Homo sapiens: one gene and its partner. The protein of the gene in region 1 purifies or fractionates together with the protein of each later gene. This does not show direct contact. Each region holds a gene or a part of one and is shown in the gene's direction. Other genes may lie near its edges.

Region 1 (3,107 bases):
GGTGGAGGTTGAAGTGCGCTGAGATTGTGCTACTGTACTCCAGCCTGGGTGACACAGGGAGACCCTGTCTCAAAGAAAACAAAACAAAAAGAAAATTTGGGGCAAGCCAAAATGATGATTGAAGAGGGGTTTAAATTGCATGGAATGACGGGGAAATGTTATTCCTTACTTCCCTTTCAATCTTGAATACCCAGGGAGCATGTATGTGGGGCACTGGATTTCTGGTGATGGCAGTGCGGGTTGGGGGGGGCATCTGGATTTCTAGATGGGGGTCAGGTAGAAAGGAACTGCCATGTTTCCTCTGCACAGGAGCACTGGCCAGAGTCCAGGTATTCGGGAAGTGGCACAGTGTGCCCAGGAAGCAGGCAACGTATGGCGACGCTGGGCTGACCTACACATTTTCAGGCCTCACGCTGTCTCCAAAGCCCTGGATCCCAGTTCTAGAGCGCATCCGGGATCACGTCTCTGGGGTGACTGGACAGACCTTCAACTTTGTGCTCATCAACAGGTGACACCCTGTTTAGTGGACTCAATGTTACAAGTCTTCTGTCTCCTCCAAAAGGAAGTGTTTAGGGTTCCACCCTATTTGGTTCATTGGTACAAATCATTTCTTAGTACACTGGGGCTCTAAGAGTGGAATAGCGCCAGCACTCGGTCTTCCTGGATCCTGGAGCTCATCCCGGAGTAGGAAGTGAGAGGTGATTAACTCCTGAACAAACAGCTGAATGAGATAATTTCTTCTTCTCTTTTTCTTTCTTTTTTTTTTTTGAGACAGGGTTTTTCTATGTTGCCCAGGCTTGGTCTCAAACTGCTAGGCTCAAGCGATCCTCCCACCTCAGCCTCCCAAAGTGCTGGGATTACAGGCGTGAACGACTATGCCTGACCCTAGACGATTTCAGACAGTGATAACCATCTTGCAAAAAATTAAACAGGCCGATTTGACTGAGAATGGCTGAGAGGTTTGCGATTAGGGCAAGGTTTCTCAACGGCAGCACTGCAGACATTTTGGGCCCAGTCATTCGTTGTTGTTGGGGCTGACCTGTGCCTTGCAGGATGTTGAGCAGATCCCTGGCCTCCATCCACTAGATTGCAAGTAGTGTCCCCCACCCCCCAATACCTGTCCCCTGGGGCAGAATCACCCTGGTGGAGAACCCTGGGTGGGTTTAAGGGAAGGTCACTTCAGATGGGGTGGTTAGAGGAGGGCTGAGGCAGTGCGTTTGAGCTGATAACTAAATGGAGAGTGCCAGCCACAGACATCTGGAGGGAGAGCAGAGGGACTCTGGAGTGTCTGTGAAGCAAAAATGCTGCAGGATGGCCGGAAAGCAGTGAATGAGGGAAAGAAGGGGATGGCATGAGCTCAGCAGTGGGCAGGGGCCGGGCTATGCAGAGTATGGCCTTTGAGTGCAGGGCAAAATCATGTGATAAAGGTTTACATAGACTGGCCAGGGGAACTACAGTAAGACGTGATTTTGGCTTTGGGTGTCTTCAGTTTTAAAGCACATGAACTGGCCGGACGTGGTGACTCATGCCTGTAATCCCAACACTTTGGGAGGCCAAGGAGAGTGAATTGCTTGAGCCCGAGTTTGAGACCAGCCTGGGTAACATGGTGAAACTGTTTCTGCAAAAGAAAAGAAATTAGCTAGGTGGGGTGGTGCATACCTATAGTCCCAGCTACTTGGGAGGCTGAAGTGGGAGAATCACTTGAGCCCAGGAGGCCGAGGCTGCAGTGAGCTATGATTGTGCCACTGCACTTCAGCCTGGGTGACAGAGCGAGACCCTCTCAAAAATAATAATAAATAAGTCACATGAACAAATACGTCAACAGACCTCTTCAGCGTTGGCTTATCTTAGAGCCCACTGTGGACCTCAAGCCCTCGCAGAAACAACGGCAGGTACAGCCATGCAGAGTGCTGTTTCACACTGTGAGGAAAACGAGGGCTGGCGGTGCTGGTGAGTTTCAGGAGAGGGTTGTTTTTATGCACTGTGTTTGTTTTCTCATTGCAGGTATAAAGATGGCTGTGACCACATCGGGGAGCACCGAGATGATGAAAGAGAACTGGCCCCTGGGAGCCCCATTGCCTCTGTCTCCTTCGGTGCCTGCAGAGACTTTGTCTTCCGGCATAAGGATTCCCGTGGGAAAAGCCCCTCCAGGAGGGTGGCGGTGGTCAGGCTGCCGCTGGCCCACGGGAGCTTACTAATGATGAACCACCCGACCAACACGCACTGGTACCACAGTCTTCCCGTGAGAAAGAAGGTTCTGGCTCCACGGGTGAATCTGACTTTTCGTAAAATTTTGCTTACTAAAAAATAAAAACATTTTTAACAGTTTTTCTCTTTTCTCTTTCCCTCTCGACTCTAAGAGGGAGCTGGCATTTCCCTTACCAACAGGGAACACAGAAAGGTTTAAAGCGTAGGGCTTGTTATGTAACAATGCAGAATTCAGAAAGATGATGTTTGTAACAGATCAGTGTATTACAAAAGAACACCAGGTGATTTTTTTCTAACAAAATGATTATTTTATTGCTATAATACACAGCAGATACAAAAGTACCTTTAGCAAATACATAAATCAGCAGTTATTATGGCAAAACTACTAGTTTAACTTAGGTTTTTCCCAAAAGAAGCTACTTACTTTGAAAATAAAACTAGAAATCAGATTATTGGGCTGCTACTTAATGCATAATAATTTACAAAATGAAGAAGTCAGGTTAAAAGGCTTTGCACAGCTATTGTTCACATTTACAGCCTTGGCTCAAACCCTGGTCTCTGACCAAAGAAAGATCTGCTTATAACCATATATTCCAAGGCTCAGCCCCTTTTCTCTATCTTTCTTTGATGGTAGATTTCAGAGTAAGCAGTGGCAGAACAGCAATTACTTAAAGCTACAGCTTTGCAGTACACTTTAAGGTCACATGATTGGGCATTTGTTCCACCAGACTTGGGTAAAACAAGTGTGTTCATTTCAACATCAAAGTCAAGGTCTGCATCGGGTGAGTGCAGGACGGACCGTACAGTTCAAGCTGCCCCTTGCACCCTGACGCCCAGAGCCTGGAGAGCCTGCACAGAATATTCTGTTGAGAGTGAGTTACTGAGTCCTCAGGGTGCAG
Region 2 (3,823 bases), on another chromosome or scaffold:
GGCTCACTGCAACCTCCGCCTCCCAGGTTCAAGCGATTCTTGGACCTCAGCCTCCCTAGTAGCTGGGATTACAGGCGCACACCGCCATGGCCCGCTAATTTTTGTATTTTTTTGTAGAGCCAGGGTTTTGCCATGTTGGCCAGGCTGGTCTCAAACTCCAGACCTCAATGATCCACCCACCCCAGCCTCCCAAAGTGCTGGGATTACAGGTGTGAGCCACCACACCCAGCCTATTCTTTTTTAAAAAATAGCTTTATCTTCTCTGATTATGAAAGTAGTGCATGTAGAAAACACAGAGAAAGTATAAAGGAGAAAACTCTGAGAAAAACCATGGTTAATATTTTACCGTGTACTTTTCAGACTTAATAAATACAAATATGTATCAATTTTTAAAAGAAAAAAAAATTACCTGCCTTTTTTTTTTTTTTTTTTTTTTTGGAGACAGAGTCTCGTTCTGTTTCCCAGGCTGGAATGCAGCAGTGCAATCTCAGCTCACTGCAACCTGCGCCTCCTGGGTTCAAGTGATTCTCCTGCCTCAGCCTCCCAAGTAGCTGGGACTACAGGTGCACGCCACCACGCCTGGCTAATTTGTTGTATTTTAGTAGAGACAGGGTTTCACCGTTGTTGCCCAGGCTGGTCTCGAACTCCTGAGCTCAGGCAGTCCACCTGCCTCGGCCTCCCAAAGTGCTAGGATTACAGGCGTGAACCACCTTGCCCGGCCAATTACCTGCCTTTTTAAATCCAGTCTCATCAACCTTCCTCTTTCCTGAAAAGGGCAAGCAAGCAAAGCATAAAGGATAAGGGAATGATAGTGCTCACAGCGTGGAGGTTTAAAGATGAGTCCTGGGCCGGGCGTGGTGGCTCATGCCCATAATCCCAGCACTTTGGGAGGCCGAGGTGGGCGGATCACAAGGTCAGGAGATCGAGACCATCCTGGCTAACATGGTGAAACCCCGTCTCTACTAAAAATACAAAAAATTGGCTGGGCGTGGCAGTGGGCACCTGTAGTCCCAGCTACTTGGGAGGCTGAGGCAGGAGAATGGCGTGAACCCAGGAGGTGGAGCTTGCAGTGAGCCGAGATCATGCCACTGCACTCCAGCCTGGGCGACAGAGCGAGACTCCATCACAAAAAAAAAAAAAAAAAAAAAAAAAAAAAAAAAAAAGACAAGTCCTGGGCACCATGGCTCATGCCTGTAATCCCAGCACTTTGGGAGGCCGAGGTGGGTGGATCATGAGGTCAGGACATGGAGACCATCCTGGACAACATGGTGAAATCCTGTCTCTACTAAAAATACAAAAATTAGCTGGATGTGGTGGTGTGCACCTGTTATCCCAGCTACTCAGGAGACTGAGGCAGGAGAATGGCTTGAACTTGGGAGGCGGAGATTACAGTGAGCTGAGATTGTGCCATTGCACTCCAGCCTGGCGACAGAGTGAGACTCCGTCTCAAAAAAAAAAAAAAAAAAAAAAGACAAGACCTGATTGGAAAAACTGTAGTGGGTTTCTTAGAACTCATTCCCTGTAGGAAATCCTAAGAATGCCTGACCTTTGGCTAAGCCAACAGGGAGAGCTTGTTGGTCTTAGTCACTTTAAAGTGTTTGAGCATTAAAGGTTAGAGGTTTTAGCAAAACCAGAGTTATTTTCCATCACTGTACCGTGATAAGACCCTGGTGTCAGGTTTGAATGGCTGTGCTGGTGTGCATGCATACTTCACGGCCCATGAGTCTTACTGATTCACAACTCTTTATGGAAAAGTCATTTCAACTGCTACCAAATGAACAATTTTTACAGCTTCTGAACAAATTTAATGTATAGCCCAAGCAAATTACAGTAATCTAGCCTAGAAGGGCTGAAAACACATATTAGTGTGTCAAGATTTCTGCCAGAAAAAGAAGCACTAGTTTTTGTGTGCATGCGCTTGTGGGGTTTTTTTGTTTTTGTTTTTGTTTTTTTAGTATTAGCAATAAACTGTGTCTCTCAAGAACACTAACGTGAAGACTTCCACACTGCAAACACAGAAATAAACTCAAAGTTAGGAACCCAAAGTTCTCATTCTAACCTTCAGGCTTTGTTTGATGTGTTATAGGTAACTCTGATATTATATTGTGTCAAGGTTTCATATTCTTTAAAAACAAACTTTTATTATGTTTTTTGTTTTATATTAGAAAAAGTAATAAATGCTCATTGTAGTAAATTTAGGAAGTATAAATAAATACAATTGAGAAACTAAAAGTCACCTATAATGCCCAGTCAGACATACCACTGTTCACATTTAGGAATGTATCAAGTTTTTTTCTATGCATATATATGATGGGTATATTTAAAATAAAAAATAAAAATGGCTCATAGAGGATATACTAGCTTGTATCATCTATATCTAGATATAGATTTTTTTTAGAGACGGGGTTTCACTCTGTCGGCCAGGCTGGAGTACAGTGGCACCATCCATAGCTCACTGCAGCCTCAAATTCCTGGGTTCAAGCAATCTTCCCACCTCAGGCTCCTGAGTAGTTAGGACTGCAGGCATGTGCCACCACACCCAGCTAATTTTTTTTTTTTTTTTTTTTTGGTAGAGATGGGGTCTCACTACATTGCCCAGGCTGGCCTTGAACTCCTGGGCTCAAGCAGTCCTCCCGCCTCAGTCTCCCAAAATTGGGATTATGGGTGTGAGCCACTGAACCTGTCTCCTCTTGTTCACTTAATAATAGATCATGAACATCTTTCTATGTTATTATATATGTAAATACTTATGTAATATACATCTCTAAATGTTTTTGCCCATTCATCATTATTATTTCCTCAGAATAAATTCCTAGATTTGTTGGGTCTCATGACTTATAGCTGTTTAAGCCCATTGATACATATGGTCAAATTCCAAGATTCACTGTTACTTGTATTCCAAGATTTACTGTTATTTATTTTCTGCTTTATTCCAGAAAGGATTCAGTATTACTGAGTTTGACATTTAATATCATTGTTGAGTGTGGAATTTTTAAATACACTAAAGTAGTTTTGCCAGTGAGTCACAATGAAACTTTTTTCAATAAGCTTAAGCCATTTCCCTTTAGAATTCTCGAACTTCTAATGTATTCAGTCATTGGCGTGTTAGAGAAGTGAGAGTCAGCAGGATCCCCAGTTATCCTCCAGAGACTGTGTATCCGCAGTGGAAATTGGGTGGCAATATTCCTGTCCTATTGCACTGTGCCTTCTCCTTCTGTGCCAGGCAGCAGTGTTGACAGGCTACCACATGAAACAAATGTTTGTGGAGGCATCCCCAAAGCTATCTAACTCCAGTTATTCTGGATGAAATGTCTCTTCTGTGGTAGCAAGCTGTTGACTGGGTTTTTCAAATCCTGGTTTCCCTATGTAATTTTTGCAAGAAGACTTTAAAAAAAATTCTTGTTCATGCAATACATTCTCTGGGAACCCCAAAGGGCTTGTTAATTTGTTTCTTTCCACACTGACCCCCACCTGGCAATTCTGCCTGTCCCTGATTTGCTCACCTTCCTCAAAGTTTCACCTCAAGTAACTGTCTTAAAAATGAAGACTTCCAGCCCGGTGCAGTGGCTCACACCTGTAATCCCAGCACTTTGGGAGGCTGAGGCGGGCGGATCACCTGAGGTCGGGAGTTCAAGACCAGCCTGACCAACATGGAGAAACCCCATCTCTACTAAAAATACAAAATTAGCCAGGCATGGTGGCGCATGCCTGTAATCCCAGCTACTCGGGAGGCTGAGGCAGGATAATCGCTTGAATCCGGGAGGTGGAGGTTGCGGTGAGCCGAGAGCACAACTCTGCAAAAAAAAAAAAAAAAAAAAGACTT

What was found.
Region 2: the proteins of ALKBH2 (region 1) and ARL3 purify together in Homo sapiens (affinity purification with mass spectrometry; one large-scale study listed by BioGRID and IntAct). This does not show direct contact.

Annotation. Positions count from the first base shown.
Region 1 is NC_000012.12:109,087,410-109,090,516, reverse strand, and holds the end of ALKBH2 (DNA oxidative demethylase ALKBH2), read left to right. Parts: intron 1-309; coding exon 310-508; intron 509-2,004; coding exon 2,005-2,311; 3' UTR 2,312-2,328; downstream 2,329-3,107. UniProt on the Homo sapiens protein: Dioxygenase that repairs alkylated nucleic acid bases by direct reversal oxidative dealkylation. Can process both double-stranded (ds) and single-stranded (ss) DNA substrates, with a strong preference for dsDNA.
Region 2 is NC_000010.11:102,700,766-102,704,588, reverse strand, and holds part of ARL3 (ADP-ribosylation factor-like protein 3), read left to right. Parts: intron 1-3,823. UniProt on the Homo sapiens protein: Small GTP-binding protein which cycles between an inactive GDP-bound and an active GTP-bound form, and the rate of cycling is regulated by guanine nucleotide exchange factors (GEF) and GTPase-activating proteins (GAP).